Linked DNA regions of Homo sapiens. The protein of the gene in region 1 interacts with the protein of each later gene in a pairwise test. Each region holds a gene or a part of one and is shown in the gene's direction. Other genes may lie near its edges.

Region 1 (3,500 bases):
CTGATCAATACATACATGCAGGCCTCCCGCTGTGGGCTCCAAATGGGAAGAGGGCTCAGTTGGTTTTGCAGAATACAGCATCAATATGACATATGCTTCATTACCTTAGAACAGGAAGATTTGCTGCGTGGTGGCATTCCATGTCACCCCACATGGAATTAGGCACTTTGCTTTTCCCCGAGGCTCCAGAGTGATGGTGGTTGGTAGGACATGATCCATATTCTTCTACTAAAGCTGGAAGAGTGGGTGTGTCAGACAGGGATGAGAGTGTGGAGATTGGGCAGACCCTCTTCCACCATCCTCTCTGACCCATTGCTGGAGGTGTGCCCTGTTCATTGATTGGACATGGCACCACATTCATCCCAAATGGCATCAATTGGTGGTTTTCAATTTGCAGTAGCAAAGTACCTGGAAGTCATGTGCTTTGTATGAAACACCTTGGAATGCTGATAAGTTTAATTCTATTCTGTAAAAGAGGAAGACTTTTGTTAGCTGAAAAGCCAACTATATTATCCATGCATTATGCTTCAGTCACAACCAAAACTCCGGCTGTCAAGTTCATCAACTCCTGATGCCTCCCAAGTCTGCTCCTGAGCCCCTCTGGTCCCTTTTCTCTGTGAATATGCGACACCAGCCTCCCAGAGCCCCACGCAGAAATCCTAGCATTACCCTCAACTCCTTATCTCCCTGCTTGTCCCATACCCACTTTTGCCCCACACCTATCCAAGGACCAAGGACCATGAAATTGACTTGCAGTTTAGCTCCTAATTCTGAACAGGTCTCTCCATCCTCGTTTCCACTATCTTCGTTCAGATGACCACAATTTCTAACCTAAATTACAGCCAAAACATCACTCTCCTCTGAGCTCTCTTCTACACCATACACTTTCTAGAACACCAGTCCAATAGGGTCATGTCTCTGGGCCCAACCTCTCAGGGACTCTCCAGCTGACAAGACACAATCTGGCCTGTAAATGTCCCTGCAGTTTAATTATCCTCAACGTTACTGCCATACCCTACATTTTTGGCCAAACAGAATTGTTTGCTGTTTGATGATTTGATACCATGTCATATTGTCTGTCTGGAACATCCCCCCACCCCTCTCATTTAGCAGGCTAAGTCCTCCTTCTACTTCATCCCAGATGATACCCACTTCAGGAAGTCTTTCCCTTCTGTGGGATGAGATGCCCATTCTGCAGGGCTTTCACTCCCTGCATCCTGCCAAACCTCATCATCTCTTACCTGGATTCCTGCTACAGCCTCCCAGTTGGTGTCCCGCTTCCACTCTGGGCCCCTCCTCTCCGTTCTCCACAGTGCTGTCAGAATCACCTATTCGAAAGGCGAATCTGATCATGTGGTTCCTGCTGCCCTTAGGATCATGTATAAACTCCTAGCATGACTTTTAAGGCCCTCTATGATCTTGCCTATTGCAACCTCCCCAGACTCAACCCTTGCCAGGTCCCTCTGCATCAGCTATCCAGAATCTCTTTGAGGCCCTCCACCTGCTGTCTACCTCTCTACCTCTGTGCTTTGCATATACTGCTTCCAATGTCTAGACCTTCTGCTGACTCCTAGTTCTTTACCTGGCTAATTCCTACACATCCTTCAGTTGTTTGTCTGTTGAACATCACTTCCTCTAGAAAGCCTTCCCTGAATACCTGAACTAGGTTATGTATCTCTCTCCCTGTTCCATTTCCTACTCCCTATCACCCTTAGATGTAATTGCTTGATTAATTGGCTGTTGTTTCTCCTAGAATGTGAGCTACAGAACCATGTATATTTTGTTCCTGCCTATATTTCTAGAACTATATAGAACAATGCTTAATAAATATTTATAGAATCAAGAATGAATGAATACCCATTTCTGTTTCGATGACTAGAAGGTAGCAAGCCTGGTTAACTGAAGTGTGTGGTGCATGGGTCGTGCTTAAGAAGTGTTTGTTGAATGAATAAATAAATGATGGATCAGCTCTGTTCAAGCTCATCTTATTATGCATTTTTAAAAAATTGTGTTTGCTCATTTGTCCTACCAGCTGTAAAAACTTGCTAGCAAAAGAGTGGCAGAAGGCCCAACATTTTTAGAAAATTCTTAGCCGTAAACCTTAAAATCCCGAGTTGGAAAATTCTCATTATTAAATGCCAGGAGTTGGTCTTCTTCCTGGAGACCTCTGCAAGAGGCCCTCTCACTGACACCTTGTGTCCATTTTTCCTGGCCAGAGCCTGGCCACCCAGTGGCTCCACCGCCCTGATGGATCCACTGAATCTGTCCTGGTATGATGATGATCTGGAGAGGCAGAACTGGAGCCGGCCCTTCAACGGGTCAGACGGGAAGGCGGACAGACCCCACTACAACTACTATGCCACACTGCTCACCCTGCTCATCGCTGTCATCGTCTTCGGCAACGTGCTGGTGTGCATGGCTGTGTCCCGCGAGAAGGCGCTGCAGACCACCACCAACTACCTGATCGTCAGCCTCGCAGTGGCCGACCTCCTCGTCGCCACACTGGTCATGCCCTGGGTTGTCTACCTGGAGGTAGGTGGGCCCCCTGCTTGCTCCAGCACTTTCTCCAGCAGGGCCCTGCACTGGACACTGGGGACTCTAGCTCCCCACTGGCTTTTACCAATGAGTTTCCTGGTGCTTCCCCAGGTGGTTTTTCCTTCACTCTGGGCTTACTTTTTCTCCTTACGAAATGGGTAGATTGTTTCCTTAATAATCCCAACTACCATTTGTAAAGTGCTTACTAAGTGCTGGGCCTCACGTAGGGACTTTAAATATAGCATTTTCCTATATAACCCTCACAGCAGCTTAGAGGCTGGCATTATTGCCACCATTTTGCAGTTGATAAACCAGGTGGTCAGAGATGTTAAGTAACTGCTGCAGCATCACACGGCTGGCAAGTCCAAGCTGGAATTCTGGCCTCAGAGTTAGTTCCTTAGGTCATATTGGAAATAGGAGTAACCGGCAAGGATCCCCAAGGAGGGGCATGTTTATGCTCCCAGGCCCCTGAAACCTTCACTCCCATCTCCCCACTTCAGAAATGGGTCTGCTGCTTTATGCTCCCCATATCCCCTCTCCTTCCCACAGCTTATCCTGGGGCCCTGTCCAGGACCTGCAGGTAGAGGCTGCCATGGACTGTGCTGTAGCCCTTTTGTTAGGAAGAATTGTGTAGTCACTCATTTCTTGGCCCAGCTCTGCACCTCAAAATGGGGAGTAGGCAGCACAGTCTAGACACTGTGCCTGGTGCATTGCTGACACAGACCCAGTGAATACTCTTGGTAACCCTGGGAGTCCATGCTACTCTTCTCACTTTACAAAATAGGAAACAGGCCGAGCACGGTGGCTCACGCCTGTAATCCTAGCACTTTGGGAGGCCGAGGCAGGCAGATCACGAGGCCAGGAGTTCAAGACCAGCCTGGCCAACATGGTGAAACCCCATCTCTACTAAAAATGCAACAATTAGCCAGGTGTGGTGGCATATGCCTGTAATCCCAGATACTTGG
Region 2 (3,500 bases), on another chromosome or scaffold:
ACTGTATGGTACTTGTGGTCATGAAATATGCAACATGTATATAGAAGACTGATAAAAATAATCACTTTAGCTATGTCCCTCATCTAGTTAAGCGGCTTAGCCTGCCAGACATTTCTTTATTAAATATTTTTCAATAGGGGCTAATAAATATTTTAACTAGTCTCTTAATTTAAATATGACTGCCATATGTGTTTTATACTTAAGTCACCCTGACTTAAGTAAAAGCTGATAAAGCTTGATTTTTTCACTTCAGCAAGGCTGCTTAAGTTTAGGGATTCAGAGCTTTCACAGACTCAAAACCTAGTGGTTTTGAAAATTTTAAAAACTTGGGTTTTAAGGGGAGAAAATTTATCTGAATTAATAATTTTCCCTAATTGTTTTTAAGAGTACCTGTAAACATTCTAAGCTTCTGGTATTCAAAATCTGATAGATTGGTGCCCTGGGTGTGGAAAACCTGAACAAAGGCAGAAATAACTGAAAGATCAGTGAGCTTTTGTGCTTATACACTGATCCTAATATAGACATTTAGAGCTGGAGAGGATGGTTGGAGAGTCTCCAGTCTTGGCCCTCTTTGTTTAGCCACAAAATTTTGGGTGAGCAAGGATAGTGTGGCATGACCATCACACAGAGTGTCAACTCTAGAGACCCCTGCCTTTGTTTGTACTCTGCCTCCAATTACAAGTATAAGATTTGCAGAAGATTAAATTCCTAAATTTTGTCAGGAAACCTGACAGTTAATTGACACTTTAGCTGGATAAAATACAGAGGTAAGATGGCAGAGTTGAGTAGTTACAATATTGATTGATTTTTGTCTTGGTTTGGAAAGCCTAAAATATTTATGATATGGCCCTTTAAGAAAATGTTTGGTGACTCTTGCTCTAGTCCATTAAATAATCTAGATTTGGGTAGGACCAAAGTGACCAAGAAAGAAAAACCTGAAAAATACCAATTAATTATAATAACAGGACTTTTGAATATAAAAGAATGAGGTTTTAAAAATTTTGATGTACCCCTTATTAATTAGCAGGATATTTCACTTCTTTGAGAGTAGCCACTCTCTTAACTCATGATCAATTATGAATTTTATATTTAAAGAATCTGGTCATAATAATTGACAAAAATCTAGATTTTGATTTGTCAAGCTCCTGAGTATCTGCTGTGAGTAAGGCTGTCTCTCTACAAAGGCAATACGGGGAAAATGTTCTAAGTCTTTACTTTGGGGTCTCATGAAGTTGGCATATCCTCAAGATAGAACGATCAAGAGCAGATTTCATAAAGAACTGTTTCCCAAGGCCATGTTGCTTTTTTTCTGGTCTCTGTGCCGCATGTGAAGCCGGTGGAGACTGCTCTTTCCTCCTCCTCCTCAATTACCAGTTATTCGTTAAAATGAGAAACTTCCTCCTCCTTCCCCTCACACCCTGGCCAACATTGCAAAATGTTATATAAATGAATTCATATAGTTTGCAACCTTTTGTACCTTCTTAAAAACAAATTAGTGTATTTTGGATATAGATCTGCCTTTTTAATTTCATGTCTGCATAGTATTCCATTTTATAGGCATACTTTAATCAATATTGATGGGCTGTTTATAGCAAAAATTTGTAACTATGAAATTACAGTATCAGAATGTATGAATGAATTTTGATAGGTATTTCCAATTTTTTCTCAGAAAAGAGTGTTTCTAATGTGCAAAAGTTCTTATTTTTGTATAAGAATGCCTATTTCCCCATACCACCAGCAACATGGTATATCATAGAACATTTTACTTTGCCAGTCAGTTTTTTTAATCACCACTAGTCATTTTTTTCAATTTTTGCAGTTGCTGGGTGTTATATTTGGGCTAAGTGAAGTTTAATTCTCATGCCTTGAATATTGCAAGAGAGTATTTCATTGCAAGAAATAATGTTGGAGATAAAATATTTGTGTAATGTTTCCAAGTATGTTGTTGGAATGTTTCAAAAATCAATGGAATTTCAGTATAGCAGGCCTTTGGAAATGAGCCTGTAATAGTTAATGGTGAGGATAAGAAATTATTATGTAGAGCTTAATATTCTTAAGCAGACTGATTCCCAAGCATGAGTAGAATTTTATCAAGTTTATTTGTTTTAAAATCAATACAAGTTGATTTCATTGAAATAAACAAATTGGGAAAGAAATACTTATTTCAGACCTCATTTTGAGAATGCTGGCTTCTCTAATAGAAGTTAACCAATTGAAAGGAGTGTGGGGAGGTGGGGGTGGGAAGAGAGATTTTTTTTCCCTTAGCAAACCAGTCATTTCTGAGCTTAGCATTTTTATTGCTCAATTTAACATTGCCTGAGAACATAATTGCATTTGAGTTTATAGCTGTTCTAACAATGTTTTGATGTACAGAGAACAGAAATGTATTTCTCTAGGAATTAGGTACTTCATCGGTCTAGAATTGACTTAAATTGTTTAGTAAACTTTAAATAATATTCACCTCTTAAGTGTGTTTAAGGTGCTTTGCAAATGGTGAAATGGTGCAAATGGTGCAAGTGGTGAAATAGTGAAACTGATGGATTTGAGCAGGAAATATATATCCCGAATGGGCAGAATATAGGTTAATGTGAGGGTAGAAATTGGAGTGGGTGACTTTATACCATGGAGAATTCAGATTGAGGACATCCTTATGTGTATGTGTGTCTTAGTAGTGGTTAATCTTCCACTTCAAACTTTGAGAGTCTGTTTATGGATTGGGTACATTTTGCGGAAATTAGATTGACCCCCAAATGTACAGAGGACCCTGTCTTTTAAAATCAAATAACTGAGGCTTTTCCTCATCAATGAGAAGTTAGAACAGCAAATTATCTCACAAAAAAATTATATTTTGGGAGAAGGTAGGTCAAAAATTCTAGAATCATTTTCTCTTTAATCCAGCTTAATCCTTTTGCTTATCCAAAATAACATGGCATGACTTTATTACTATTCCAATATGCTACCACAGAAGGTTTAGGACTTATTGAAATAAAATGATGACGGAAGAGTGACCTTTCAAAAGTAATATGTATGTAATACCACAGAACCGTGGATTTCAAAAATAGTGAATGTGAAGGAAACAAAAAACCTTCCAACTACATTTTTTTTGGCATCAGAATTTGTTTTCTACCATAGGGCTATTCACATACTGAATTTCGTTTTCCAAAAACCAAAAGACCTGAAAAGACCACTATTAAACACACACATTCTTGCTCATTCTACTCCCCAGGCCTTTGCTGTCCAGAATGGTAGCCACTAGCCACATGTGTCTACATTTAAATTAATTTAAATAAAATTAAAAGTGCAACTCAGTTGCAGTAACTATATTTCAGGTGCTCAGTAGTCACATGAGGCCACATGACAGTGCATATGTGGTATGTCTCCATCGCTGCAGAAAGTTCTTTCGGACAGCACTCGCTAGACTAGTAGTGGGGATGCCAAATAAGAGAGACTTGATTCCCTGCTGGCTTTACGAAGAGTTCCTGGGAGGGAAGCTGAAGCTT
Region 3 (3,500 bases), on another chromosome or scaffold:
ATTTATCCCTGTACTTTCCCCAAGATCTGTTTCTTCACTCAGTCTGTTCAAACACTTCATGTGTCATATCAGATTCTTGTTCTCAGAGGCATTTCTCCCAAAGCTTTCTGATCTTCAATCTGGACTAGTATTTTCTGGGCCTTTGAAACAGTGGACATCAATATAGTCTCCCTTCACCATCATCCTGGTGAATCCTGTCTCCTTTTACGTTGGATCCTCGGTTTTTGAGATGTCATGTCTTTCTCTTCCTTGGTGTTTTTTTTTTTTTCATTTTGGTAGAGCAAGTTTAATAATTTTCTGGAAAAAATGATGTATTGGGGGTTAATTTTTTGAGCTCTTACAGGTATGAAAATCTTATTTTTCTCTTGCACTTAATTTGATCATTTGGCTTAGTGTAGAATTGTAGTTTGGAAATCATTTATCCTCAGAATTTTTCTGTTTCTCCCTATTCCAAGTCTTGTTCTTGTTGTTGGTGTTGAGAAATCAGATGTTATTCTGATTCTTCTTGAATCCTGCTTTTCTTCTCTGAAAGTTCTTATGATCTCTTGCTTGCTCTGAAATTTCACAACAATATGCTCTGGTATATGTCTATTTTAAACTATTTCCTGGGTACCCTTTCAATCTGGAAATTTTCTGTATACCTTTCAATCTGGTCCTTGAGTTTGGGGAAATTTTCTTTTGTTTTTTGTTTTCTTTACCTTCATTTTTTTCTGTCCTATTTGGATGTTGGACCTCCTAGACTAATCCTCTAATTTTCTCCCCTTCTATTTTCTACCTCTTTTTCTTCTTGTTCTATTTCTGGGAGATCACTTCCACTTTATCTTGCTGCTATTGCATTTTTCATTTGTTTCATATGTTAATTTCTAGAAGCTTCTTTTTGAGGTCTGAATGTTCTTTTTTTCTAGCATCCTGTTTTTGTTTCATGAGTGTAATATAGTTTTAATATCTCTCTGAAAATATTAGTAATTTTTTTGAGTTTGCTTCTTCCTGCATAGTTTCCTTCAGACTGTTCTGTTTTCTGGCATATTACAGGCTTACCTCAAATTTCTGGTCATGTTTTGCTCTTTTTTCTGTACGTGTTTAAGAGGGGGCACTACGAAGCTGATTGGAAGCTCTTAGCCTGAAGTACGTGTTTATCAATTGTAATTTGGGTGATTTGGCTGGGCAGTTGAGTTTTAGGACCAAGGTCAATATCTTTAGGTCTCTTCTTTTGGTCTCATCAGATATCCTACAGAAGAATCTTCTAATTGCTCTCTGAGTAAAGAAGGTGAGAATATAGAAGTCTCTATATACAGTATATAAACCTTTGCTTAAGCTCCTGTTTCCAGTGTAGAATCCATGTCCACTGTGCTTATATTCCCCAGTTCAGGGACCATCTCTTTCACCCTCCAAAGAATAAATATCTGAACCTATAGTAGAATGAGTAGAGGCCAGAGACAGGAAGTTGGTGGCGGGGGTGGGGGTGGGGAATCTAATTGTTTTTCGAAAAACTCTTACTGGAACCTACTTATTTTAGCTCCCCTTTCCTCCCTACTTCCAGGTGTGCATGGAGCTGCTAACCCCTGAGTCTTTTGGGGATGTTTGGGTGCAAATATTTTATTTTGTGCTTCTCTCACAGCTGCCATAAGATTTTGCTTTTTCTCAGCTTTGAAGAGATCATTGTGGTTGTCTCCTCTCTTTGTTATTGTAGGTTAAAAACATTCTTTTAGTGTCATTTCAGTGGAGTTTTGGGAGATAGCCAGGGTAAATGGATGTGTTCAATCCGTCATCTTTAACTGGAAGTCCTTTATATCTTTATCTCTACATCAGATGGTACTAATTAAATACCCAGTTGATTGTGAGTGATTGAATAGAGCATCTAAAACAGCAATAGTCGGGCTATTCTAATAAATATTGGTACCCAGTTTTCAATTTTTAAAAAGCTTTTGGATTTCAAGGGAAGTGTTCTAAGTTGGAACAGACTTACTAAGACACATCCTCTGTAAGGTCGTCTGGTCATCAGCGACTGGACAAATGGAAATGAAGCTCTGAAGGTTGCTGCTGCTTTTTCTGCCCCTCTTATTTCTTCCCACCAGATGAAGTCCCATGTGTCTTCTGACCTAATTCGGACCTTGCTGGATTAATTTAGTGTTTATAGTGTGGTGTGTGTGTTGGGGAGAGGACCTTGATGTTAAACTGATTATTGCTTGGCTGTTTTTCTTTTACTACAGTGATAACCCTTCATGGTTATTATGGGACTTGTACATTATAATCTGGAGTTTTTTCTTATTTTATCAACTTAATTTACTATACGCAATATACAGTTAGGATGTGTGAACTACCTTTTATAACATTTGGGGAACATTAAGTCTTTTTCACTTAGTCGTTGCTTAGAAATTAGCTGAATTTTGGTCTAAATAGAATGAAATACTCTTCTCCATTCTAATCACAACTAGAGTTCTTGATTTGACCTTATTGTGAGTTGCATTACTTATTCAGTGATTGTTCTTTATATACTGCTTTAAGTAAGTACCTCAGAAGGTGCTGAAAATTGAAAGTCATTGTGACTGTGTTTCTTTGTTTAAACATGTTAAACTCTTGACATAGATGACTAATGCACTGCTAAACCCATTTGAAACACACTTTAAAAATATATTCTTATGTATTTTTCTCCTTTAGTTCCATTACAGCAGCTTCCAATCTGAGTTACCTCCTCATTGCAAGCAGATTTTTGGAATGCTGCTCTTAAATTTCTTATTTTGGCTGTTATTCCCCTTGCCATGACAGAATGATTTTCATTCTTGGCTGAACATTTTTTTCATCTTACTGCAGAACCCCACTATTCATCAAGAAAAGGATGTAGAGGAAAAAGGAGAGGGTTTTCTTTGTTTTGTTTTTCCTTTTGGTTATTTGATCAGTTAAACAGGTAAGCATTTTATTTATTTGTTTATTGCCTTTTGAAACATTTATTATTTTATAGATTTAGGGAATACAAGTGCAGTTTTGTTACATATATATATTGCATAGTGGTGAAGTCTGGGCTTTTAGTGTAAAGCATTTAAAATAGTTTAAACATCACATTTTGACTCTGGAAGATTTTCTTTGGTGCTTTCTGCAAGATATAGTGGGATTTTCCCATCATCATCTGTTTCTAGGAGAAATTCCAGGTGCCTTATACTAGAGGATGATGAGATGAGTCAGACACAGGTACTGGTGAACAGACATAGGTACTAGATCAGTGATTCTCACCCTGTTTGCCCATAGAATTGCCTAAGGGGCCCTAAAGAAGATACTTAGACCCCATCCTAAGAGATTCTGATTCAACTGGTCTGGACAGAGTGCCAGAATTGATATGCTAAAATATGCTCCCAGGTGATTCAGCTGTGCAATTAGGATTGAGAAACATTGATCCAGGGAGAACTCAGTAGATAATAGTAGGCTTGGTTCACTTGAGCCTCCTGGATCTGCAGGTAGCTACGGAGTATCTAACCTAGTACTGGCAATATTAATTTGGTCTTCGT
Region 4 (4,110 bases), on another chromosome or scaffold:
TCACCCAGGCTGGAGTGCAGTGGTGCGATCTTGGCTCACTGCAACCTCTGCCTCCCGGGTTCAAGCGATTCTGGTGTCTCAGCTGGGATTACAGGCGCACACCATCACACCACGCTAATTTTTCTATTTTTAGTAGAGATGGGGTTTCGCCATGCTGGCCAGGCCAGGCTGGTCTCAAACTCCTGAGCTCAAGTGATCAGTCCGCCTCGGCCTCCCAAAGTTCTGGGATTTCAGGCGTGAGCCTCATCTATGAATCTCAATTTAGGACAGTAAAAGTGTCATTACAAAATATTTATTGTAAAAAAGGGTTGGAGGTTGAGAATCTCAATTCTAGTCAGTCTCTCAGTGTTTGGTTTCTTCCTACCATTTTTCCCCCTAGGACCAGCCAGAAAGCAGCTTTTTTTTTGTCCCCCCCAACAAGGAGCCCACTGTTTCCTCTCCCAGCCCAAACTCAGGCCTACGAACAACAACAGCACAACACACACACACACACACACACACACACACACACACACACACACACACACCCCTCCACTTCAAGGTATAGCCAAGAGCTTCTGGAGCCGTCAAAAAGGTCTGTACCTGCTGTCTTTAGAGCTTCCAGTTTGCCCTTGGTCAAGAAATACTGTTTGCTAGGCTCTGCTGGAGTACATCAGGTAATACTGGCTTCTAAACCACCCTGAGGTTCTTTTCTCTTGTCCTTTTACTCCCTTCGTACTTCAATTTCTCTCCTTGATGTCCCCCTCCCTGTTTTGTTTTTTGCCTCCAATCCGTTCTGCGCGTTCCCTGCAGAGCAGGCGAGTAGCAATGCTGCTGGACCATGGAGCTGCTCTAGTCTCCCAGAAATCTCTTCTACACCCAACCCTTCTTGCGCTTAGGTGGTCCTCAGTCCCCCTCCCCCACCTCCTTCTGACCCAGGCTTCTTTCTCGCCCTCCGGTCGCAGTTCTCCTGGGCATCTGCCTCTGCCTCTCTCCTCTCACCCGGATCTAGGGCTGCCTTCTCTTTGTGCAGCCGTCTTTCTCCACCTTCATCCCAGACTCCCTGTCTCAGCGCCAGCTCCTCTGCCTTTGGCTCGGGTTCCCTCTCCCCCACCCCAGCTTCCAGTTGTTTGGCCCGCAGGTCCCTCGGCAGTGACCGGCGCCCCCCGACGAGTGCGTGTGCACCAGGGCACCTCCCTCTCCCCCACCTCTCAGCCCCGCGCCTCTCCACCGCCCGCCCCACCGCGCTGTGGGCGGTCCAGGGCGGGGCTGGGATCCGGGGCGGCTCCCGGGGCTCGGGTTGTGGGAGGCGCCCTCTCCCCGGTCTTCCCCTCTCTTCCCCCCGCCCTGCCTTCCCTTGCACCCTCCTTCTTCCCTCCGCCCGGGAGCTCTCCCTGGTCCCCGGCGCCGCCTCCTTCCCTCCCGGCTCCCCGCTCCCCGCTCCCGTGGCTGCCGCCGCCCCGGGGAAGAAGAGACAGGGGTGGGGTTTGGGGGAAGCGAGAGAGGAGGGGAGAGACCCTGGCCAGGCTGGAGCCTGGATTCGAGGGGAGGAGGGACGGGAGGAGGAGAAAGGTGGAGGAGAAGGGAGGGGGGAGCGGGGAGGAGCGGCCGGGCCTGGGGCCTTGAGGCCCGGGGAGAGCCGGGGAGCCGGGCCCGCGCGCCGAGGTAAGAGCCAGGGCCCCGGGTTAGCAGGGCTCGGAGAGGGGGCGCGCGGCGTGGTGGGGGAGGGGGCAGTGGGCGCAGGGCCCAGCTGGGGGAAGCGGGGCTGGGGGAGAGGAGGAACCGCGGGGATGGAATCGGGGAGCGCTGAGGCGGCCGATGCCGGGAGCGTGGGTAAGCCAGGCTTCTGCGAGCCGCGGGGGCCGGGGGAGAGGAGGTGGTGAGAGGTGGAGTCCCGGGAGGGTTGGGGGCCGAGGGAGGCAGGAGGAGGGTGGGGACAGGCTTTCTCTCCTCCTCTCCCCCCACCCCGCGCGGGGCTCCGCCCCCGCCTCCTCCGCGGGGCGCTCTCTTGGTCCCCAGGCTGAGCCCGGTCGGAGCCTGCGAGGCAACCGGCAAGAGGTCGAGTAGTCTCCGGGTGCGGGCCGCGCCGGCGGGGCTCGGTCCAGTCCTCATGGCCGCCTCTCACTTAGATGTTGCTGCTGCTGCTACTGGCGCCACTCTTCCTCCGCCCCCCGGGCGCGGGCGGGGCGCAGACCCCCAACGCCACCTCAGAAGGTGCATCCTTCTTCGACGACCTCCGGCCCTCCTTCGCTCCACTTCCCTTTCCCTGCATCTCCTCATTTCTGGTCCTCATCACTATCCCATCAGTCCCACATATCATCCCGGTCTGGCAACCCCTTCTGCTCGGCCCGACTTTACTACTGCTGACCTCCTTCTGTCACCCCACGTTACTATCCAGCACCTCTTTTCTCTGCCCACATTGCTACACTATACCACCTTCCTGTGCATTTTCTCCGCCTCAATCCCCTTTCCCAGCCCCACATTACTACCTCAATTACTCCCTTTTCTTGGTCCCACTTTGCTGTCCAGATGATCTTATTAGCCTCCCTTTATCCTCCTATCCTAATTCAACTCGAATATCCTCATTTAGCCTTTTTTTTTAAAGAAAAGCTCCACCCACATATCATACCCTTCATGATTTCTTAATTACTTTTCTTTCTTACCTCCACCCAGCACCCTTCCCTCCCCACTTGTGGGTTCTCTCATCAGCTTTAACCCTGGCCCTTTACTCTCTGTCCTTTAGCCAGGGGATCTGTACCTGTCCCCACTCCCACCCTCTAGTGCCCCATCCCTCTTCCTCTGTCCCCAGCCTGCCCACAGACCACGCCCTACTCTCCCCTTCCTCCCACTGGGGAGCCTGCCTTTTCCTCTTTCCCACCATTCCTCTCTGTATGCCTCCCCGACTCACCCCTTAGGTTGCCAGATCATACACCCGCCCTGGGAAGGGGGCATCAGGTACCGGGGCCTGACTCGGGACCAGGTGAAGGCTATCAACTTCCTGCCAGTGGACTATGAGATTGAGTATGTGTGCCGGGGGGAGCGCGAGGTGGTGGGGCCCAAGGTCCGCAAGTGCCTGGCCAACGGCTCCTGGACAGATATGGACACACCCAGCCGCTGTGGTGAGTAGCCTCGGAAGCCCCTCCCCTCTTCAAGACTATTCCTTTTCCTGCCGCAAACTTAGCATTACTGCTTGCAAGTCAGCACTTTAAATCCAGTATACCAAAATTCACAAATACATTTATTGAATGACTACTACATAAGAGCAATTTTGCTCTGTGCGGTTGGAGGTAGTAGAGCTAGCAGCCTGCACAGTTCATTTCATCCTCCCTTCATTAGGCCACTGATCATTGGCCTATAACATTGATAATTCATCTTGTCAGTTATTCTCTTTGAGGATCATTAGTGGCAGATGATGACAAAAAAATTCTAAAATGATTTCATCACATTTTTGAATACCTCTGTCACCAACCCAGAGACCATATGCCCAAGAAACAAAAGCCAGTTTAATATTAATAGAAGCCAACTATAATAAGAAAAGCAAATCTGATTGTGCATCCAAAGTTATATACATCTACATATTTCAAAGCCAGAGAACCGCCCACTGTAGCTGACTTTGAAGAGATCCCATTTTGTGTGCTTATAGCCCCATCTTGGGTTCCTAAAATGGTAATTTTTTTTTTCTTTTGGGAATGTGTGGATGCTTGCACAGGTAAGGGAGGATTGGAAGATAGGTAGGCAAATCCTTTTCACATGTGATTTTCTTTAGAGCAGGATGCTTGTGGACCCAAACCTGCACCTGAGTCCCCTGCTCTTTAAAGGGAAAGAGCCTTCTTCAACTCGCCTCTCTTCTTATTTTCCTATCTCTCCACAGTCCGAATCTGCTCCAAGTCTTATTTGACCCTGGAAAATGGGAAGGTTTTCCTGACGGGTGGGGACCTCCCAGCTCTGGACGGAGCCCGGGTGGATTTCCGGTGTGACCCCGACTTCCATCTGGTGGGCAGCTCCCGGAGCATCTGTAGTCAGGGCCAGTGGAGCACCCCCAAGCCCCACTGCCAGGGTGAGGGGAACAGCTGCCTGCATGCAGCTGATGAGGACGCTTGTGTGAGGATGGGAGTGGGGTGGGAATGGATA
Region 5 (3,500 bases), about 50 Mb from region 1:
CCAGGCTGGTCTCAAACTCCTGGCCTCATGTGATCTGCCCTCCTCGGCCTCCCAAAGTGCTGGGATTACAGATGGGAGCCACTGTGACCAGCTTTACCCATTATTTCTTAGTAAAATTTTATTACAGAATTTGTATTTCTTAGATGTGCTGTAGACACGTATCACTATTAGCACTTAAAACAGTGATATATAGTAGTACTTGGTAAGTATTTGTTGAATAAATTATCAAATTTACGAGCTAGAAAGGCACACTTGAGAAATAAACTAAAGAGAAACTCTTTTTGGAGTCTCGCTCTGTAGCCCAGGCTGGAGTGCAGTGGTGTGATCTTGGCTCACTGCAACCTCTGTCTCCTGGGCTCAAACCATTCTCCCACCTTAGCCTCCTGAGTAGGTGGGATTACAGACATGCACCACCACGCCCAGATAATTTTTGTACTTTTACTAGATATGGGGTTTTGCCATGTTGGCCAGGCTGGTCTTGAACTCCTGACCTCAAGTGATCCGCCCACCTCGGCCTCCCAAGGTGTTGGGATTACAGGCATGAGCCACTGAGCCCAGCCAAGAGACTCTTATCTTAAATGCTTATCCATTGCAAATGTGCATTCATATTGTCTAAAAAGCACTAATACAGTTTTGGTGGGCCCAATGCAAGATCCTCATTTGTTGGGTCACTACTTGAACATAAAAGTTTACCTTAAGATACTGCAGTGTGGGGCCAGGCACGCTTGCTCACTCCTGTAATCCCAACACTTTGGGAGGCTGAGGTGGTTGGATCACCTGAGGTCAGGAGTTAGAGACCAGCCTGAACAACATGGTGGAACCCTGTCTCTACTAAAAAATACAAAAATTAGCCGGGCACAGTGACGGGCACCTGTAGTCTCAGCTACTCGGGAGGCTGAGACAGGAAAATCACTTGAACCCAGGAGGCGGGAGTTGCAGTGAGCTGAGATCACACCATGGCACTCCAGCCTAGGCGACACAGCAAGACTCCATCTCAAAAAAAAAAAAAAGTTACTGCAATGTGTTGTAATCATTTTTATTGCAGAAGCCTTTCCTCCTTGCTGGATGTTTTTCTTCATGTCACAAAGGAAGTGTCTCAGGCTTTTGCACCATGAAAATAAGATGAAGTTTGTTATTCCAAAATTTAACTTATTTAAAATGTAGATGCTAAAAAATTACCTTAATTGTTTAAAAAAAAAATCTGTACGTATTGCTGTCATCCTCCAGCTTCATGTTCTTTCACCAAGCTCCTCTTGGTTTTGGAGACTTGTCTTGATTTTAGTTAAAGAAAAATAAGTGATTGGTTGGTGTCCTACAGAAAACAATTTTGTCTTGACTGACCTGTCCAGTAATTAATTTTAGAAGTATTAGTTACTATATACAGGTCAAGAATGAGTGATGGCACTCTGTACTTTAGTGCCTTAGGTTCTAATGCAGCCAGCAATGTAGTATGCTTAGAGATGGGGATCAGGGGTCAGGATGGCTTCCCAGATTTCTGCCTTTGAAGGAAACTGAAGATATCAGAGGCAAAAATTTGAGGTTGAGGTAAAAGAGACTGAAATATTCAGTGTTCATTTCAGAGCAAGAGTTGCCTTTATTAGGCCTCAAGTATAGAGACACGTCTATCATCTGAACTTTAAAAGTACTTTAATAGTTTACTGATGACACGATGTTGAAATTCTGTAACTTGGCCGGGCACGGTGGCTCACGCCTGTAATCCTAGCACTTTGGGAGGCCGAGGCAGGCGGATCACGAGGTCAGGAGATCGAGATCATCCTGGCTAACATGGTGAAACCCTGTCTCTACTAAAAATACAAAAAATTAGCCGGGCGTGGTGGCGGGGCGCCTGTAGTCCCAGCTACTCGGGAGGCTGAGGCAGGAGAATGGCGTGAACCCAGGAGGCGGAGCTTGCAGTGAGCCTAGATTGCACCACTGCACTCCGGCCTGGGGGACAGAGCGAGACTCCGTCTCAAAAAAAAAAAAAAAAAAAAGAACAAATTCTATACTTGCTAGAGACTGCTTTTTATTGTTGTTATGAAAGTTGGCTGAGTCTGGTGGCTCACACCTGTAATCCCAGCACTTTGGGAGGCTGAGGTGGGTGGCTTGCTTGAGCTCACGAGTTTGAGACCAGCCTGGACAATAGTGGTGAAACCCCATCTCTACAAAAAGACAAAAAAGCAAGAATTAGCTGAGCATGGTGATGTGCGCCTGTGGTCCCAGCCACTTAGGAGACTGAGGTAGGAGGATGGCTTGAGCTGGGGGCAGAGGTTGCAGTGAGCTGAGATTGTGCCATTGCACTCCAGCCTGGGTGACTGAGCCAGAACTTGTCTTAAAAAAAAGAAAAGAAAAGGAAAAAAGAAAATCATGATGCCAAAATAAAACTACATTTTATATGTTTGTTCATGGAAATTAGCTCAAAGCAAAAACAGCTTGGGCAATTTTTTGAAAAAGGTTTTGCTTTAAATATTTCTTTCCTCACTCATGAAACTTAGTTGTTCTGTGTACTTTTTATGGCTTCATTTTCACACTTTGTTCTACCATATTAATCAAATGTGAATATGTAATTTGTGTTTTGAGTTAACCCTTAAATAAAAAGGAATGTGGCCCCCGTCCAACACTGACATCATCTGAGTGTTACATTCGTGTCAGATTATCAGTGGCAGTGTAATGTGTTAAAACACAGACTTGAGCTCCAGGAATGCCTAGATTTCAATCCTGGCCCTGTCTCTTAATAATTATGTGATCTTGTGCAAGTCCTGAGCCTCAGTTTCCTTAACTTGAAAATTGGGATAATAGTATCTATCTTGGAGTTGGTATGAAAATTAAACACAATTTGGCTGGGCACGGTGGCCCACGCCTGTAATCACAGCACTTTGGGAGGCCAAGGCGGGTGGATCATCTGAGGTCAAGAGTTCGAGACCAGCCTGGCCAACATGGTGAAACCCTGCCTCTATTAAAGATACAAAAAATTAGCTGGGTGTAATCCTGTAATCCCAGCTACTCAGGAGGCTGAGGCAGGAGAATCACTTGAACCCAGGAGGTGGAGGTTGCAGTGAGCCAAGATAGCGCCATTGCACTCCAGCCTGAGCAACAGGGTGAGACTCCATCTAAAAAAAAAAAAAAAGTGAACACATTTATAGGGCTTAACACAGTGTCTTGCCTGTAGTAAATAACTGTACCATTAATGTGAAGAAATGAAATATAGATCAACAATGTGACCTAGACACATTTGCTTTGTACCCTTAAATCCTGACCTTTATTAAATAACAATACCTAATGTTTGACATCCATTTGTAGGTTACAAACTACTTGCACATATTAATAGATACCACATAGCAGTTCAAGTACAAATGAGAAATCTGTCTTCCTCACAATCAAAGACTATTGTTATGCCTTTTTTCCCTTTCCACATGTGAGTCAGTTGTTTCAGTTTGTGGCCCTTCACATTAATGTCATAAAGCTGCCACCCGCTTCCACTGAGGTGGTCTGTTAAAGAGGTA
Region 6 (3,500 bases), on another chromosome or scaffold:
CTGGGCACATAATCAGCTCTCAAAGTTAGATTGACAGCCCAGATGCCTCGAGAAGTCCCATCAGGACAGCAAGTTGCCCCATCATAAGACTAAACTCATTGAATTCCTTAACTACCCCCTCTTGGCCTCCTGGGGGAAAGTTACCATTACTCTTTTCAAGAGGCTGGCATCCAGGTGAAGTTTTTTGTTTTGTTTTGTCTTGTTTTTTAACTGGCTTGGCTATTTAAAAATCTGCAGAAAGATAGAAAAAAAATATTGCTATGGTTCCCAATCCCTCCCCCTACTTCTGTCTTCCTAAATCCATCCTATAAGGCCCACCTCCTCTGGGAAGCCTGCCCCAACCCCCAGGCTCTCCCCTCCCCTGACTGCTGTAGTAATAAGAATTGAGGCACCTAAGTAGTTCACGGTTTACAAAAGGACCTCCAAGGACCCAGCGTCATCTCAGCTTCATGTGTGTCCAAGGCAACAGGATCAGTTATACAGGTGAGGAAATTCAGCCAGGCTAAGTGATTTGTCAAGGTGTCACTTTTATGGAGTGGCCGAGTCTAAGCCCTGGACCCCCTGCTCCCAACTTGAAAGCCGGGGTGCAGTTCACAGAGGAAGAGCAGCAGGCTTCTTATTTCCCTCTCCCTTTGACGTATTGCATGTTTAAAATGTGAAGGGTTAACAGAACTGGAGAATGCAAAGGAAAATGTTGGGGAACAATTGGCTGTAATTACAGTCTGCAAAAGAGCCCCTCAACCACAGGGCGCCTAAAACCTGAAGCCCTTCTGAGCTGATTGTGCTGGGGGGGCCAGGCACCTACAAGCCCACTGATGACCCTGGCTTGCTGGGCAGCTGGAGGCCACCACAGGGTTCCGGGAGGAAATGACAGAGAAGGATGCAGCGTCTGGAAGTATAAAGAATGCTCCCTGCTCCCCACTGCAGCCTAGTGAAGACAGGGGTAGTGGGTGGGTTGCGGACTCTGGTGTCTCCCTCTGTCACCCGGTGACTGGGAGAGGTATTCCTGCCCACATGTGTGGCTGTCTTTGTGCACGGAACAGTGTGAGCTTTCCTAAGCAACCCTGAGACTCACAGTTAGGCCTCCTTGACATGGTCTACTCAAGGCTGGGGAGTGTGGTATGGGACTTTCTCCTCACTGTGGGGAACGTGGCTGAAGTTACATGTCACATTCTCTAGATTTGACATGAGTTCTTAGTTCCAGCCAAAAAAAAAAAAAAAAACCTGTTGACTTAATGCTTTTGTTTAAACTGAAAATTAATGGATGAAGAAGCTGATGTGACAAGCTGTCCCTTGGGAAGTAATAGGTGAACTTGACAAAGGAGGCAGGGAAATCAACAATTAGAAATATATAGTTGTCTGAGGTCTTTTAGTGAAGGACAAACAGTAGGTGGGGAGGAGGGTAGAGGAAACCAGAGCTTTTCATTATTTCTCTGTAAGGGGAAGGTTCCAGAGTGAGCACCTGGGTGTTGGGGAAAATCTGACTAGAAATGTGGGACTTCCTGCTGATGTGTCCCCTGAGGCCCCATGGCGTATTTCTGTTTCTCTCTCTCCCCTCTAGCCTGAGCAACAATATATATCTAGCAGGCGTTTAGAAAATACCTGTTGAAGGAATAACTAAATTAACCATTCTGTTAAATCTATTGTCTCTTTCTCTTGTCAGGCTCATAAAGATGTCGAGTCCATACATGAACAACCTTATCATCCTTGGAGGGATGCTCTCCTATGCTTCCATATTTCTCTTTGGCCTTGATGGATCCTTTGTCTCTGAAAAGACCTTTGAAACACTTTGCACCGTAAGTCATTCTGCATAAGCCAGTGGTATATGATAGAAAGTTTCCTTGGTGACCTCAGTCATCGAAAACACAGATGCAAACCCAGAAATACATGAAAATACATGAACAGGCAGGGAACAACCCATTTAGTAGTTTTCAACTCAACAGGGAAGAACGGTGTTACTGTCAGGCCATCACTGGGTATAAATACCACCTACAAAGTTAAGATAATGGACTTCCAGCCCGGGCAACATGGTGAAACCCTGTCTCTACAAAAAATACAAAAAAAAATTAGCCAGGCATGCTGGTGTACACCTGTAGTCCCATCTTCTCAGGAGGCTGAGGAGGGAGGATTGCTTGAGCCCAAAGATCAAGGTTGCAGTGAGTTGTGATCGCGTCACTGTGCCCCAGCCTGGGAAACAGAGAAAGACCCTGTCTCGGAAATAAAGATACTGGACTTACCAGGCCACTGTTAGAAGAGAGCCCACTGAGAATTGACAGAGTAACATAGAAAAGGAGGGGAAAAATATTATCTTCCAGAAAAGCATCAGCGCCAAGGGTCAGAGTCAGGGTCAGGATCGTTTAAGAAGGAACAGATCCTCCCATCTACCTCAAAAACCATCAAAGAATATGACGATAGATCTTTGTATGTCTGACTGAGTTATATGGTAAAAGCTATAATTGTTATTTTCTATTTAAGTGGTGTTTTCTTCAACGGTTTTTTCCTTATTGTTCCCCTAAGGAGCATTTTTAGACATTTTTTCCTAATGATTCCTCTTATGAAAGTTTAATACCAGAAATGTAATGTATATCTGTTTGTGTACTTTATATATATATCTATGGTTTATACGTAAAAAAGAGTAATGTTTCTTCACATTCAAGAACCAACAGTTGCCCCCAAGGGGGCTGTATCATCCCTATTGAGATATATATATATTTAATGAAGTCCAAAGCAGTGTAACTAATTTACTATACATTAGAAAGATTATTTTTAAAGTTAATTAACATGTTAAAAAGTTTAATGCCTAAAGAAATGCCTTTTATTTTTTTTTGTTTTTTGGGTTTTTTTGGAGACAGAGTTTCACTCTTGTTGCCCAGGCTGGAGTGCAATGGTATGATCTCAGCTCACTGCAACCTCCGCCTCCTGGGTTCAAGTGATTCTCCTGCCTCAGCCTCCTGAGTAGCTGGGACTACAGGCATGCACCACCATGCCCAGCTAATTTTATATTTTTAGTAGAGACGGGGTTTCTCCATGTTGGTCAGGATGGTCTCGAACTCCCGACCTCAGGTGATCTGCCTGCCTCGGCCTCCCTAGTTATTTTTTTAAAGGGGGTTATGTATTAGCAATCACTTAATAGTTTTATGGAACTAACTCTCAGTTGAAAATATCATGAACTTACTTTTTAAGAATAAAGTAATCAGTTGGGATGTATTTCTGGACATTGACTATGATCTGTCCAAATGGGGTTAGCCAGCTGGGTCTCTTTAGAGTCCCACATGCAGTAATTCATCCAGTCCCCTGCCTGGAAGACCAGAGCTAGAGGGGATGGTCAAAAGATCGGTGCTGAGTGGATTCATCCAAAAGCCACTCCTTTGTTGGTGCTGTTTTCTTTCAAGACGTTGAGAGCACTGTGGGCCCTTTTTTGCAAAGCAGCCTTTTTTAGACTGCATTTGTTGCTCACAAGCCTCAGTGTTGCCCACTGCTGGATGATGAGGGCTGAAGGC
Region 7 (3,500 bases), on another chromosome or scaffold:
GACTGCAGGCATTGATGACGGGGAGCCTTCCTGGCTTTGTCGACGTCATCAGGAACCTCAATTCTCCTGCACTGCTGGAAGACAGTGTGATAAGACAAGCAAAAGCAGCTGGAAAAAGAATAGTCTTTTATGGAGATGAAACCTGGGTTAAATTATTCCCAAAGCATTTTGTGGAATATGATGGAACAACCTCATTTTTCGTGTCAGATTACACAGAGGTCAGTTTTTAAAATAAGAAAATATATCATACTAGAATATCATACTAGATAGAGCCTGGCATCCCATTACTTAGTGAGAGATGATACCATTTTATATTTGGTTTTATTAATTTATAGGGAGTACTATGGACAGGTGTAAAAATTATTCACTCACATAATCAGTTAACAACCCAGAAATACAAACCTGAAGCAGGTGTGAGCAGAGTTTTATGGAACCCAAAGCTTAGAACAGCTGAGTGCCATTGAGGGGCAGAGAGGATCAGGAAGGGTGACACAGCCAAGGGACTGTCTGAGCCGAGATATGATGGGTGAGTGGGGACTCCCCAGGTGGGCAGAACAGGCTGGTAGCTTCTGCACATGGCAGAGCTGTAGGACTCCACAGCCTGTTGGTTCTGCTGCAAGCGGAGCCTCATCGTGCCCTGAGGGCAGGTGGCCGACTGGGTGGGGCCTGGTCCTGAGGGGGTTTTCCTGGAGCTTTTCCAACAAAAATTAGACCTGCATGTTAGAAAGCAGACCTGGGGCTGAGGTAGGAGCACACCAGCACACCTGCCTGGCCTGGGGTTTAGCCAGCTTCACCTCCTAGATGGCTGGGCCTTATGGAGCATCTGTAGTCCTATCCTGTTCCAAAGTGGGGCGCTTTTCAACAGTTACTTTTCAGTAATGACTGAGTTTTCCTGACTATATATGGCATCACTGAGAAACACTTCTCTTCATAGGAGATTTTTTTAGTGGGAGGGAGATGAGCTAGCTGAGGGGTCAGGGCTCACCAGGCTGACAGCTCTATTGGGGGCTGATCAACTGCTCATCTCTCCTCCGTGATGTGTTTATTTCAGAAATCAATGTGATCATTGAGTGCTGTGTCTTTTTCAGAACAGCCTTCTTGTAGGACACATGTAGATGCCCTCAGCTTCATCATCCTGCTGGTTACTTTAACGCTGGGTACTGTCCTGTCTTTAATTAACTGCCCTTTGCCCTTAGTTACCTCATGACAACTTGGGATCTATTTAACTTGCCCATTTGCTCACCTTCAGTTATGCCCATTAAGCCCAGCAGTGATCCCACAGAAAAATATTTTTGTCAGAAGAACCCTTGCTCATTTAAATTATCTGTAGAATATATTCGATCCATAGCCCAGAAACATAAAAACAATATTAGCAAAAGTTTAATCCAATGCTAATGTTCATTTATTTATTATAGACGTGGGGTCTTGCTATGTTGCCCAGGTGGGTCCTGAACTCTTGGCCTCAAGCAGTCTTCCCGCTTCAGCCTCCTCAAGTGTTGAGATGAAAGGCATGAGCTGCTGTGTCCAGCCTATTTATTTATTTTTAATGACATAGATTTTGTTGTGTTTCAACTCCCCCAAATCCTGTAACCTGAATAAACCCCTAGATTTTAAGATGACTGTTGCGTTTTCCCCGGGGAGTGAAGATCCAGGGAAATTAGGTGAGTTGTTTATACGTGTGTTTCCCCTTCAAAGGTGGATAATAATGTCACGAGGCATTTGGATAAAGTATTAAAAAGAGGAGATTGGGACATATTAATCCTCCACTACCTGGGGCTGGACCACATTGGCCACATTTCAGGGCCCAACAGCCCCCTGATTGGGCAGAAGCTGAGCGAGATGGACAGCGTGCTGATGAAGATCCACACCTCACTGCAGTCGAAGGTGAGGCTCGCCGTCGCTCACTGTCTGCTGATGTGGTTTCACGTGGATGTTCCCTAGAATAAATGCAACCGCCTGAGTTATTCAGGGTGCCTGTGTGAATGTCCACCATCAGTCTGCTAGCCAGGGGCCGCATGCCACACGGGCAGCACTGTCTCAGTGTCCACTGCACTGACTCCGTCTTCCAGCAGCCCTGCAGAACAGCAGCTCTCACTCCTACCCGTGTATGCATTCATTCAACTAATACCTCCTGAAGACCTTTTGTGCCACTCTCTCTGTTCTGTATCACTCTCTCTGTTCTGTGCCACTCTGTTCTGTGTCACTTTCTGTTCTGTGTCACTCTCTGTTCTGTGTCACTCTCTCTTCTGTGTCACTCTCTGTTCTGTGTCACTCTCTCTGCTCTGTGCCACTGTCTCTGTTCTGTGTCACTCTGTCTGTTCTGTGTCTCTGTTTCTGTTCTATGTCACTTTTTGTCCATGCATTTGGGTGCATCAGTGAAACAGTCGATAATCCCTCGTGAAGCTCACGCTCTAGCCAGGAGAGATGAGAAAGATGAGTAAATAAGTATGTGAGGAGGTGATGGGTGCTGCAGAAACTCAGAGGGCAGGAGGAGGGGCTTTCAACAGCGTGTTGAGAGAAGCCTTCCCTGAAGACGTGTGCAGGGTGAGCAGAGACTTGAAGGGAGGGAGGGGCAGACCATGTGGTCTGTGCACGAGTGTTCCAGGAGGACCAGCAGCGAGGGTCAGGCACAGCCTGCCTGGCTTGTCCCGGAGCAGCAAAGGATGTGTGGCTGCAACCCCAGGGGCAGAGAAGCCTGGTGGGTGCCCCCACATGGCTCAGAGCTCTTGCCTTTTGCTGTGTGTTGTGTTCTCACCAGAGTCCTGTGAAAGATTCCATTTGACAGATGAGGCGACCAAGGCACAGAGTAGAATGCGTCCAGAGTCTCACAGCTTGGCAGTGGCAAAGACAGAAACCAGATACAAACCGTCTGCCATCAGAGGGCAGAAATGCAGCCTGCTGTGCTCCATGAGCTGTGTACAATTCTGTGAACTTCATTTATGGCATTATTTGACTGTGACCCTGTGATCTGGCTATGAGCTCATAGGAAAAAAAAATCTAATTCATTGAGAAAGAGCTACAACTCTATAAAGTAAAGCTAAAACCGAAAATTGTCTTCTTAAGATGATGTGCTCTCTTCAGTCTGAACGCAGTTGAAATGTTTTTCCTTTGCCTTAAAGGAGAGAGAGACGCCTTTACCCAATTTGCTGGTTCTTTGTGGTGACCATGGCATGTCTGAAACAGGAAGTCACGGGGCCTCCTCCACCGAGGAGGTGAATACACCTCTGATTTTAATCAGTTCTGCGTTTGAAAGGAAACCCGGTGAGAATTTAGGAATGTTAACAGTTGGAAATTGTATTACATTTGTTTTCTATAGTCTGGTTTTAATTTTGAAAACCTATTTTTTAGAAGCTCCATAAGGTTGAAGTCCCCAAGCAATGTGAGCATGAAAAGTAATTGGGCAAAAGGCTTTTGGGATCTGAAGTTACGTTCCTTCCCGAATCCTTAAAATACAGTTATTCTTTGTCAGAATTTTGTTGTATGAATGTTGCTGCCTGGAT

Evidence for each region.
Region 2: the proteins of DRD2 (region 1) and TSPAN3 interact in a two-hybrid assay, tested with the Homo sapiens proteins (one large-scale study listed by BioGRID and IntAct).
Region 3: the proteins of DRD2 (region 1) and TSPAN7 interact in a two-hybrid assay, tested with the Homo sapiens proteins (one large-scale study listed by BioGRID and IntAct).
Region 4: the proteins of DRD2 (region 1) and GABBR1 interact in a two-hybrid assay, tested with the Homo sapiens proteins (one large-scale study listed by BioGRID and IntAct).
Region 5: the proteins of DRD2 (region 1) and RTN3 interact in a two-hybrid assay, tested with the Homo sapiens proteins (one large-scale study listed by BioGRID and IntAct).
Region 6: the proteins of DRD2 (region 1) and GABBR2 interact in a two-hybrid assay, tested with the Homo sapiens proteins (one large-scale study listed by BioGRID and IntAct).
Region 7: the proteins of DRD2 (region 1) and PIGG interact in a two-hybrid assay, tested with the Homo sapiens proteins (one large-scale study listed by BioGRID and IntAct).

What each region holds. Positions count from the first base shown.
Region 1 is NC_000011.10:113,423,399-113,426,898, reverse strand, and holds part of DRD2 (D(2) dopamine receptor), read left to right. Parts: intron 1-2,216; 5' UTR 2,217-2,247; coding exon 2,248-2,532; coding exon of another isoform or gene 2,533-2,536; intron 2,537-3,500. UniProt on the Homo sapiens protein: Dopamine receptor whose activity is mediated by G proteins which inhibit adenylyl cyclase. Positively regulates postnatal regression of retinal hyaloid vessels via suppression of VEGFR2/KDR activity, downstream of OPN5.
Region 2 is NC_000015.10:77,047,110-77,050,609, reverse strand, and holds part of TSPAN3 (tetraspanin-3), read left to right. Parts: intron 1-3,500. UniProt on the Homo sapiens protein: Regulates the proliferation and migration of oligodendrocytes, a process essential for normal myelination and repair.
Region 3 is NC_000023.11:38,568,042-38,571,541, forward strand, and holds part of TSPAN7 (tetraspanin-7), read left to right. Parts: intron 1-3,500. UniProt on the Homo sapiens protein: May be involved in cell proliferation and cell motility.
Region 4 is NC_000006.12:29,630,384-29,634,493, reverse strand, and holds the start of GABBR1 (gamma-aminobutyric acid type B receptor subunit 1 isoform a precursor), read left to right. Parts: upstream 1-1,310; 5' UTR 1,311-1,644; intron 1,645-1,711; exon of another isoform or gene 1,712-1,797; coding exon of another isoform or gene 1,798-1,812; intron 1,813-2,108; coding exon 2,109-2,193; intron 2,194-2,892; exon of another isoform or gene 2,893-2,894; coding exon 2,895-3,098; intron 3,099-3,104; exon of another isoform or gene 3,105-3,850; coding exon 3,851-4,036; intron 4,037-4,110.
Region 5 is NC_000011.10:63,684,500-63,687,999, forward strand, and holds part of RTN3 (reticulon-3), read left to right. Parts: intron 1-3,500. UniProt on the Homo sapiens protein: May be involved in membrane trafficking in the early secretory pathway. Inhibits BACE1 activity and amyloid precursor protein processing. May induce caspase-8 cascade and apoptosis.
Region 6 is NC_000009.12:98,383,936-98,387,435, reverse strand, and holds part of GABBR2 (gamma-aminobutyric acid type B receptor subunit 2 precursor), read left to right. Parts: intron 1-1,663; coding exon 1,664-1,796; intron 1,797-3,500. UniProt on the Homo sapiens protein: Component of a heterodimeric G-protein coupled receptor for GABA, formed by GABBR1 and GABBR2. Within the heterodimeric GABA receptor, only GABBR1 seems to bind agonists, while GABBR2 mediates coupling to G proteins.
Region 7 is NC_000004.12:505,710-509,209, forward strand, and holds part of PIGG (GPI ethanolamine phosphate transferase 2, catalytic subunit), read left to right. Parts: intron 1-8; coding exon 9-218; intron 219-1,695; coding exon 1,696-1,884; intron 1,885-3,119; coding exon 3,120-3,261; intron 3,262-3,500.